2 separate regions of the Homo sapiens genome follow, and region 2 is linked to region 1. Evidence: fine-mapped QTL for protein levels in blood plasma. A gene starts in region 1. The other region holds a variant in brackets. All regions are shown on one strand. Distances are between the middles of the regions.

The links. A credible set is the group of variants that fine-mapping cannot tell apart. PIP is the posterior inclusion probability: the model's chance that the variant is causal. Protein levels are from antibody-based Olink assays in UK Biobank. Linkage for the fine-mapping came from a reference panel and not from the study's own genotypes, which makes the PIPs less certain.
Region 2: its variant is the best candidate, but not a certain one, in a credible set for the plasma level of the PVALB protein (UK Biobank, PIP 0.77).

The regions. Positions count from the first base shown.
Region 1 is chr22:36,814,188-36,819,511 of GRCh38, forward strand. It overlaps PVALB (parvalbumin), which reads right to left and starts at 2,848. Exons shown (of 4, transcript NM_001315532.2): 1 at 2,758-2,848; 2 at 916-1,048. The coding sequence starts at 2,818.
Region 2 is chr22:36,858,665-36,864,016 of GRCh38, forward strand. NCF4 (neutrophil cytosolic factor 4) reads left to right here and starts at 2,342. Exons shown (of 10, transcript NM_000631.5): 1 at 2,342-2,539. The coding sequence starts at 2,508. The region is part of intron 1 of NCF4-AS1 (NCF4 antisense RNA 1); the gene reads right to left. The variant G/A (reference allele first, on the strand shown) is at 2,471.

The DNA of each region.
Region 1 (5,324 bases):
CCACCTGCGGTGAGGGGAGGAGAGGGGAGGCTTCCTGGTGAAGGTGATACCTGGAGGACAGGGGGAAGTCAGCCTCTGTGAGTGTGTGTGTGTGTGTGTGTGTGTGTGTGTGTGTGTGCATAAGTGTGCATGCATGTTGGATGTAAGTGGGTAGAACGTGAAGATTCTAGACAGAAGGTACCCTTGTGAGATGGTTTAGGGGAGAGACAGGATGGGTGGGGAAGTCCCTACTTGAAAGGCCTCTCCCTACACCCACCCCCCGCTTCTCTTTTTGACAAAACTCAAGGCTTTCTTGGCCAGAAAGTGACATAAGGCAACCTGAGTCAGTAGACATGGCCGGGTGGCTGAGGGAATTATGGTGGGAGATGCTTTTGCAGATGGAGGCATGCATTTTCCTAGCCACAGCCTTCTCCTTCTCTGCTTTTCTCCAAGGACCCCTGGACTCTCAGAGGTGGTTCTGCATCCCTGGCTTGCCTAGAAATTGCACCAGCCACACTAGTACCAGAGGGCTGGGGGCTGCAGGAAGGTGGAAAGTGTCTTTTAGACAAATGAAAATCAATGAAATACTCAAGTGAATGCTTTCTGCCCTGCCTATGGTGTTAGGCAGCAAGAAAACTGCCTCTTCATTTGCATTAAATTATTAAGTAGCAACATTCCATTAGCAATATTAAGTGGCTATCATTTAACCTAGTTAGTTGCACTTTCAGCTGAGGGTTTTACTCTTCCGAAGCAATAGCACCAGGAAGCCTTCTCCCCTGGTGCCCTGGGTCGGAGCCCTGCCTTCACGCACGGTTACTTTCTGTGAAGCAGGCAGAGTGAAAGGCAGGTCTGATGGACACTTGGAAGCTAGAGTCCCAGCCCCCACTCCCTCTCGTGCAGCCGTGGGCTGGGCAGCCCCTGCAGGCCTCCGCTTACCCCAGCTCATCCTCCTCGATGAAGCCACTTTTGTCCTTGTCCAGCATGTGAAACACCTTCTTCACATCATCCGCACTCTTTTTCTTCAGGCCGACCATTTGGAAGAACTTTTTGTGGTCGAAGGAGTCGGTAGCTGTGGGGGGAAGAGCAGGGTCAAACAAGGACCAGAAAGGCTGGTAGGGAAGCCTGGGAGAATGGGGGGCATCAAGGCATTTGTTGATGGATTCCCACATGCCAGTCATGGGGAATGAGAGGTACCCACCTCCATTGGAGGGCTGAGGGAGCCCGGGCAAGGGAGGATAACCTGTCCAAGGTCACAAGGCTGGGAGTGGAAGAGGTGTGCTCAAACCCAGACCTCCCTGGCTCTCAAGCCCGCCCCCACGCCCCACCTCCACTGCACCCATTGCTGATGATGGGAGCAGCACCTAAGAACCAAAGGCTTTTGTTCTTCTGAGAACCTTGTGCCCAGGAAGACTTTTGAGTGCCAGCTGGTTGGGAGTGGGCTGGGGAATTGAAGGGGGCATGAACATGGTCCTGGGGTTAGGGGGAGGAGGGTTGACCTTCTTTCTTGGCCACAGACTTTGTTGCCAGAAAATTGACATAGAAAGGACAGGTTTCCCTCAAGGTCATACAGTGGGAGGAGGAGGGGCAAACCCGGAAGTCCTGGCTCTGCGCAGAAATCCACTTCGGAGGCAGTGGGAAGGGGGTGTTAGGAGGCTCCCGAGAAACACCCAGTTAAGTTTCTTCCCACATGGGCTTGAGGTGAAGGGAGAGGGTTATCCCAGGACCCTGGGAGGGTGGCTTCCCAGAGAGGTTCTTGTGCCCAGGGGAGGGGGTGCAAAGCAGAAAGGAAATGGGGGTCCTTTTCTACCTGCAATTTTCTGTATCTTGGGGTCCTGTTTTAGAACACCTGGGGAAGGGTACAATGTTAGATCATGTATTTTGTGTGTGTGTGTGTGTGTGTGTGTGTGTAGGGAATGGCTGTTGAAGTCATGTTCTCTTCCCCTCAGCACAGGGCTAGAGACAAGGAAAGTTGCCCTGTCCACCTCCGACACTAGGCTGGGCAACCCAGTTCTAATACCCCTTCTGCCCAGCTAGGTGACCTTGGGCAAATGTCTTGTCCTCTCCAAGACAGTTCCCTGATTTCCCCATCTGGAGGACAGGGGAGGAGGAAGGCGGGCAGCTTAGCGCTGAAGTCCCGGGCAGCTGGGAGAGGTGAGACTGCCAGTTCCCCTCCCCTGCCCGCCTAAGGAGGCTGGAGGTTTGAGGCACTGAGGATGCCCCGTGCGGGCTTAGGCAGAGCTGTGCGCCGGCTCCAGAAGGTCACCTCGCCCGCAGGTCCGTTGCTGAATCTCAGTAAAGGAACTAGGACAGTCAGGGGGCCAACAAAGGCTACCGCCTGGCGGGAAAAGTCCTGTCCAGAATGAGGGTCCAGGAAAGGGGTCTCTTGGAGAGGAGGATGCCCCCTGCAGTCCCCTCTAAGTGCCTTAAAGAGGACGTCCAGAGAGCTCGTACAAGGACCCTGGAGGTCTCTCCTCCGACCCTGGTCTTCGCCCTTGGTCCCGGACCCTGAGTCCTCCCAGCCACCGGGCCTTCAGCACCCTCAAGTTTCTGTAACTTAGGCGGGGCGCCCTCTTCCCCGCCCGCTCCCCGCGCCAAGCCTCGCCCGGACAGAGTTTGGGAACTGCCAAGGACGCCCCCGCCCCGACCTCGCCGGCGCCCAGCGGGAAGTGTGGGCAGAAGCGCGCTGGGGAGGATCCGCCGGCTGCGGGGCCGGCGGAGTGCAGGGGCGCGGGCGGTGGACGAGGGGAGAGGGATGGGGAGGGGAGCGCGCTTGCTCACCGCTAAAGGCTCCCACCGCCTTCTTGATGTCCTCAGCGTTCAGCAAGTCTGTCATCGACATCCTGCAACTGTTTGAGCGGGCAGAGCAAGTGCGAAAAGATTAAAAAGTGCTTTTCTCATCATTTCTGCTCATATGACCAGCGCTGCAGTGCTGCGCGCCGGGCGCACGCCCGCCGGGCCTGGCATGGCGCCAGGGGCCCGGACTCTGAGCGCAGCGGGAGCGGCTCAGTCCAGCCGCGCCGCTGAGCAGCGCCGGCCGCCGGCAAGAAGGCGCGCGGACCTGCTACCACTCCTGCACCGCCAGGCCAGGGGTCCGCGGGATCCCAGGGGCTGCGGCCAGGGCACGAGGGAAGGGGCCACCTCTGGGATTTAGGGGGCACTGGCGTCACCAGCTGGGTCTGGAAAGTCCACCTGCCGTCAAGGACACGCAGGAGGTGCGCCGTCTCAGATCTGGGAACCTTGGCGGATGTCCTGCCGCGTGGGGGAAGATCCTGAACCTTCAGCGGCCAGCCTGCACCTCAGGACCTCCTAGGCCCTGCTCCCTTTCTCTCTCCACTCCTACCTCAGCCTCTGCTCTGGTCTGTCCTGGATGCAAATTTATGCTGCAAAATCTGAGCGCTGAGGTCCTGAAACCTGACCCACCCGACGCAGGGAGGAGGTGGCAGGGACAGGGACAGGGACAGGCAGGAGCTGCTGGGGCCCACTTCGGGTGCCCCATCCCACATCTGGCCAGGGATGCATATTCTAAAACCTGATTTGATGTTTTACTTTTATTTTTTATTTTTTTGCTGGCTTGATTTTTCGAAGAACACTTCTCAGATCTCTACTAACTACTTGCTTTCCTGGTCTCCTGGGTCCTGGCATCATGGGTCCAGACTCCCCCTACTCCTATAAACCTTTTTTGGGCAGAGTAGGGTGGGAGAGTCCGCTTGGAATTGCTATGCTCCCTCCCAGAAAGCCCCATATGTGTTTGGAAGAAGGGTAGCACCTTCAGACCACACTTTCTAGACAACCTAAGCAGGTGTAGGGGTCTGAACTTCACCTCTGGAAAAATGTCACGGTGCCTATCTGTATGCAGCCAGAGACCCGTTGTGTTCTTCCCCATGGTTCCCAAGGTTTCAAGCTGCAACCAGCTGCTTCTAGAGTGTGTGAGCGCTGGACAGGGAGTCAGGAGGCCTGGGTTCTAGATCCTGGGCTGCACTAAGTCCCAGTGTGACCTTGGGTTGTGACCTTCTCTGGGCTTCTGTCTCCTTCTGATGTGTTGATGACGTCAGTGGTCCCATGTAGTGGGACCTGGGGACTGCAACTTAAGGTATTGGCAGGTAGGCAGGGCCTTGGGCTGTGGTGGCCCTGGGTGGTGGGGACCAGGGAGAGCAGCTGTCCAGCTGCCCAGTAACTCAAGTTCCCTGACATCGCTGTCAACATTGTCTCCTGCAGCTCAGCCCTGGATGGCTGCCCTTCCTGGAAACCTTAGGATACCTCTGCTGGCTCCAGCTGCCCCCTCCCTGTGAGTCAGCTCCTTCAAGCCACAGCCCGCCAGATGGCTTCCAAGGCACCAAGGATGCAGCTCCTGACCTGATGCCTCTCAGCTCCAGGACTTCCCAGGACCCCTCAGCTGCCCTGGACCCTGCTGCTACTGCCGTCACCTCTGCACCTTGTCCCCAGCTGGGCTGCTGACTCAGATATGCCAGGCTCCTATGCTATCATTTCAACTCCCAGGCTCAGCTCACTCCAGGAGCCTAGTTGGAGAATGGATTTCCCCAGCTGAAGGACGCTTCAGCTATACCAGTGGAGAAACGGAGGCACAGAGTCCGTGAATGGTCTAAGGACACATGGTAAAGCAATAGCAGAGCAGGGTACACCCCTGGACTCACTCGTGTGGAGTTCAGTGACTCTCTGGGTGATCCTCCCTGGTGCCTGGGACCCAGCTCTATCAGGTCCCATACATCTCAGCCACACACTGGCTCCTGGTGAGCCCCTAAGCAGCTACCCTGTGGCAAAGGCTGCAGCCTCAACAGGGGCCCACTCTTCTTCCATCTCCTTCCTCCATCTCTCCCTGCTGCTGAGTTCTCCTATCAACTTGACACCCCCTCCGGGACTGAGCCCTCCCAGCCAGAGCATCAATGTCATTAGGTCAGCCCATCAGCCCTGGGTAGTCCTCCTCTGCCCTCTGGGTCCTCTCTGATGGCATCACCAGAGTCCACAGATGTCTGACTCCAGCCCTCTCGTTCTAAGGCTGGGGAATCTGAGGCCCAGCCACGGGGGGCGGTGGGTGGGGGGAGTTTGCCCCAGGCCACACCAGGAGTCTGGGTGGAGAAGCAGGAATGCATGCTCTCAGCCCTACATTCCACAGCTGCCCTGCCTCCAGCACCCCCACCGCACCCCCCTCCCCGGGTCACTACGGACAGGGGAGATGTAGCTCTCCCTTCCAGCTGGCTCATCCTGCTGCATCCCTCTATCCTCCAACCTCGGTAGCTGCCACTCACCTCGGGTGGGGGTGGAGGGCTGGAGCCTGCACTGAAAGGCTGGGCTGGTGGGAAGTCCTGTCGGGAAGTGAGCCTGGAGGT
Region 2 (5,352 bases), 44 kb after region 1:
GATTAAAAAAGGAATAAGAAATGTCCATGTGTCTAGGCACTTTTATACAGTTTTCTATTAATTCCTACTACAACTCCATTAGGCAAGACTGTTTCACAGATTGGTGAAGAAGAAAGGTTCAAAAAGGACATGTTATCTTGCCTGAGTTCACCTATTATAAATGTACTTGTGTTTATACTCATTTGTCACCGACTGCAACCTAAACATCTAAACACATTCTCTCACAGCCACAATGCCACCACTATACACATTATATGGTCTTTTATAGACACAACACAAATGCACTTACACTTGCCTATGCGAGCTGTATGTGTTTATACACAAATATGTGTTTCCAACTATAGGCATATACTACACACACAGTTTACACAATCACCTACAAATTCTGTATCATGCTTGCTTGCTAAAATTGTTTTGCCACTTCCTGTCCTTCCTGACCAACTGTAGGCCAATGTCCTCCTCTTCCCTCAGTTATGGCTGTGTGCTTGCACCTGTTGGTACTTACAGACACCTGCACTAATAACCCTGCTCTGTGTTTCATTTCATCCTCTAGCCTGGGAGCCCCGAGACACCAGCAACTCATCAGACTTATTGTTTGTATTATTTCTAGTTCTTTGGGTGTGAATTCTTCATGATGTGGAGGCTCTGAGCTGTCTTTCACAGCTCACGATTTGTAGTTTTGGTCTGTGAGTTGACAGAGTAGGCCCTGCAGAGTCACTGACTCCAAGCTGTTTTTATATAATGCCTCAGCTTAGGATTTCTGCACCACGTGGGTAGCTTATATCGGGGCCTTACACCAGTGCAGAGGGCAGGCTTGAGGCTGATCTGGTACACACGTCCCTTGTTCCACCCATGGACTGTGAGAGGACCTCAGCTCCTGCCGTGACTCTAGGCTGATGGCTGAGAAACTCTGTTCCCATAATCAGTTCTGACACCCACTTTACACTGAGAACTCAGATTTGACTTTCTGCTAACAGCAGGACCTGTGGCCTGTACCTAGTCCCAGATTTGGCATTAAAATCTCAGCCCAACAATGCATATCCAATCTTGGTTTTCCCATGGGCTGTTGGCCACGTTCCTCTCCCCCTGGTATAGATTCCTGACCCCTCTCTTTGATCCTACCTAAAAATTATGCTTTCTTGTTTTTTTTAGCTGGGACTTGTATGTTTAAAGTAGTTTAAAACAACTTTCTGCTCTGCATGTATGAATACGAGTGTGTGAGCGTGTGTAGCTGGCAGGGAGTTACTGGGTGTGGCTGTGCCAATGACTCCTGTGGACCTCTTCTCAGAGAAGTCCCTTCAGAATCAAATACCCATACCTGTTAGGAGCTGCAGTCACTGACTGGCAGCGTTTCATTCATTCACTGAATATTGGTTGAGCACTTGCAATGTGCCAGGCACGCTGCTAGCCAAGGAGGCAGTCATTAAACATACAGATAAACAAACAAATGTGAGATGACAATAGTTATGAGTGCTCTGCAGTAGACGTGCAGGGACCTGTGAGAGAATGTAGTAGGGAGGGCCTTAATTTAGGGTGTGTGGTCAGGGAAGGCCTCGCTAAAGATGTAGCTTCTAAGCTGAGATGCAAAGGAGGCAGTGAAGAGCTTTTTCCAGCAGAGGGAACACCATGAGCATAGGCCTTGGGGCGGACGTCTTAGAACATTCTAGAAACGGAAAGGAGGCCAGTGAGAAAAAGGGAGCTCAGGAGCAGAGGCTGGGGAAGGCTGCAGGGCCTCAGGGGCATTGGAGGCAGGCAGGGCAAGGACTCTGGACTTTATCCTGAGCACAGGGTGATGGGGCAGGAGAGTTTAAGCAGGGAGGGTGAAACTCACTCTGATTGGCAGCCCTGTGAAAGAGGATTGGCTGGGCATGGAGATCTAAGGATGAGGAAAGGATATCCCAGAGTGCCAGGGCGCGCAAACCAAACTTCACACTCTAGGAAGACAGAGGCCAGAGGAACCAGGAGGGCTTCCTGGAGGAGGTGGCATTTACTCTGGGCCTAAGAGATCACAGGAAAATGGAGGCCAGCATTCTAGGCCTGGGGAAGAGTTTGGGCAAAGGCTTGGCAGTAAGAGAATAAAGGTGGGGCTTGATGGGCCAGAGGATAAGTGACTCCTCAAGGTCACAAGACACCCTGATGGCTGGGACCCCATCTCTGATGGAGCAAGGCTTCTGATACCCAACTGAGGCTTGGCGCCAAGGACTGACATCAAGGAAGTGGATTCCTGCAAACCTGGCACCCGAGGGTCCACTTCCTCAATTTCTGTGCAGCTGGGAGGTGAGGTAAGAGGAAGTGTGGGCCACAGGCTAGGCCCAGAGAGCCTGGAGGAGGAGCCTCTGCCAGACTGGAGAGAAGCAGGCCTGAGCCTCCCCAAAGGCAGCTCCTGGGGACTCCCAGGACCACAGGCTGAGACGAGACGCAGGGTGGCTGGAGGAAGTGAGAGGTGAACTCAGCCTGGGACTGGCTGGGC[G/A]AGACTCTCCACCTGCTCCCTGGGACCATCGCCCACCATGGCTGTGGCCCAGCAGCTGCGGGCCGAGAGGTGAGTGCCGGGGTGTGGCCGCCCCCGGGCCTTCTCACTGCTCCTCATAGGCCTTAGGGACAAAGGCCAGTCCTTCTGCAGTCCCTGATCAACATGAGAGGCTGGGGTTGAGTCAGAACCCAAATACTCAGAAATGCAACCTCTCAGAACTGCTTTAACGAAACTTTGAGCTGTGGCTCACCACCCTCAGACACAAATGAGAACACTGAGGCTCCAAGAGTGGGAGTGACTTGCCCACGGTCACACAACGAGTGACCGGCAGTGTCTGGAGAGGAATGCAGGTGTCCTGGGTCCCAGGCTGGGGCCCTTTGCTTCACATGGTGATCAGCAATGACTTTCCATCTTCTGCGCAAACAGAATTCACAGAATCTGGCTTGTTCTTCCGCTAATCAGGGCTTGCCTCAAATGTCACCTCCTCCAAGAAGCCTTCCTGACAGCCCCTACCTCATTGCTGTCTGACCCTTTGCCCTATTTCCCTTTTCTGCCTGGTTCTTATATTACAGGAATAATATTATATGCTCATTTATTATTTTTTCTTGAACGTTGGCTCCCCCATGAGAAGCAAGCTCCACGAGGCTGTGTCCGTTTTGATCGCTGCTGTATCACTAGGAGGTAGCTCATCCCTATTGAGCACCAGGACCAAGGGCTCAATAAATGTTGCTGAATGAATGAATAAATGAATGAATGAATGGGTGGATCTTTGAGACGGAAAAGGTCTTAGATTCTTCTAGTCCAACCTTGCCATTGTACAGATTGGAAATCTGAGGCCCAGGGAGGATAAGAGACTTACTCAGGGTCACAGAGAGTGACTGGCAAGGTTGGGGCTTGGAGCACGGCCTCACCAGCATCTAGCCTCGTCGCTTGGGAAGCATTTTCAGAATTTTTCCTCAGTAGCCAGGTCTGAGCTCTAAGCTGCGGGGGCCCTGAGGACGCAAAGCCTGGCCCCTGCACCCCCTGGATTGGAACAGCAGGTGACCTCTGTTACCTACGTGGAGGCCACTCAGGGGGTCACCAGAGACAGGCCAGGCTGGTGTGTGCCTACGCGGGGAACAGAAGGCCCATGTTGGGGCCTGGGGCTGGAAGTAGAACCTGAAGCGTGGGTTGGGGCAAGGGCAGCAGAAGCAAATGCCTACAGGGGAGTCCACGTGGCCTTCCTGAGCCTCAGAGCGGGGTGCAGGAGCTGGGTAAGGCTGGCCGACCTGAATTCCTTCCTCCCCTCACATGCTCCTGGGGGACCCAGCCGCACGCAAACTCGAATCTTCCGGAAGCAGCAGCTGTTTGAGGCTTGGGCACTTCCTGCTTTCTGGGGTACAGGGTTCAGGGGATGACACGGAGAGCTGACCAGCAGGACTGTGCACTCCCTCCCCCACTCCCTGTCCCCTTTCAGCTGCCTTAGCCCTCAGAGGGGGAGGGACTGCTTTTCATGAGGCCTTGAGCCAGGTACTAGGGGCATGGGGGCTCCCTGTACCTCGAAGGTCTTATCTGAAAGCGAGCCTGGATTGTTCTGCTTAAGGTCAAAGCAGAGAGTACAAGGAGAGGGCGCAGGTTCGCGCAGCGGGGACTTTCTAGAACCCCAAGGTGAGACATCCAAAGATGGGGAGGGCTGCCTTAGGGGTGGCAAGTTCGGTTCCAACAGACATGTTTTGAGCACCTACTATGTGCCAGGTGCCAGAAAACCTGCCCTGGCTGCCCTCCAAGGGTTCTTCCAACCTCGGCCTCCCCCAGGGCAGGCTCCAAAACCTCCCCCAGGCCAGGCTCCAAAGTCTGTGAACTGTGCGAGTGTGTCTTGAGCCAGAACATCCCGGCCCAGTAGGGCCTGGGTGAGGTCCCCAAGGGAGCGGATATTCCAGGGGACTTCCGGTTGGGTTTGCTGCTCTTCTTGCCCGCCCCACAGGCAGCCAGGCCATTCTCATGCTGCCCATCAAAAAACTCTATAATTGCAGACGACGGTAGTGGCCGTGTATTGAGCAGTACTGAGCACCTACTGTATGCCGGGCTCTGTTCTGGGCACTGGGATGTAGGGTGAGCAGAGTCCTTGCCCTCATGGAGATTTTAGGGCTGTGTTTGTTACAGATGGGACTGCATGACCACCCGGAGACATAAGTACTTCTCCTGTCCCCATTTTACAGAGGAGGGAAGGAGCGGAGCACAGCTAGGAATCTTCCCAAGGGAGCTTGATCTTCTTGTCCCCAGTGCTGCGCCTATGCCTCGAGCATCTGCCAATGTCTGTCCTGCTTGACTCCTTCCTCAGCCCCCACCACCCCAGGGAAAACTCGAGGTCCCTCTGCGAGGCATCAAGGCACCTCGTGAGCGGGCCCTGCCTGTCTCTCCGACTGGTCTCTCATCACGTTCCACCTCCTGCTCTGTGCTCCAGCCATGCTCAGCAACCTGCGGTTCCCTGAACTGAGCAGCTCCATCCAGGGCACATGTTGACTTTGTTTACATCTGTGACCCAGGGCCTAGGACAGGGCCTGGTATGGAGATGTTTGATGCCTTATTCCCAGGTGAATCTGTGCAATTGACAGCAATGTGTTAGACTATAATTTGGCTATTGCTATATGGTCACCAGCTTCCCATTCCTACACTCAATATGGCCACCAGCTTCCCATTCCTGCACTCAGTATGGCCGCCAGCTTCCCATTCCTGCACTCAAGGCCTGGGCTGTGTCTTGTTATCTCCGTATTCCCAGGGTCAGTGGCTGGACCTGGCCTGGGAAGGGGTGCTGAGAGACGAATGTTGGCTTCACAACATTAGTTTGCTTTGCACTCTACCTCATACCCGGTGGGCCCACAAAACACATCAGGGTGATAAGC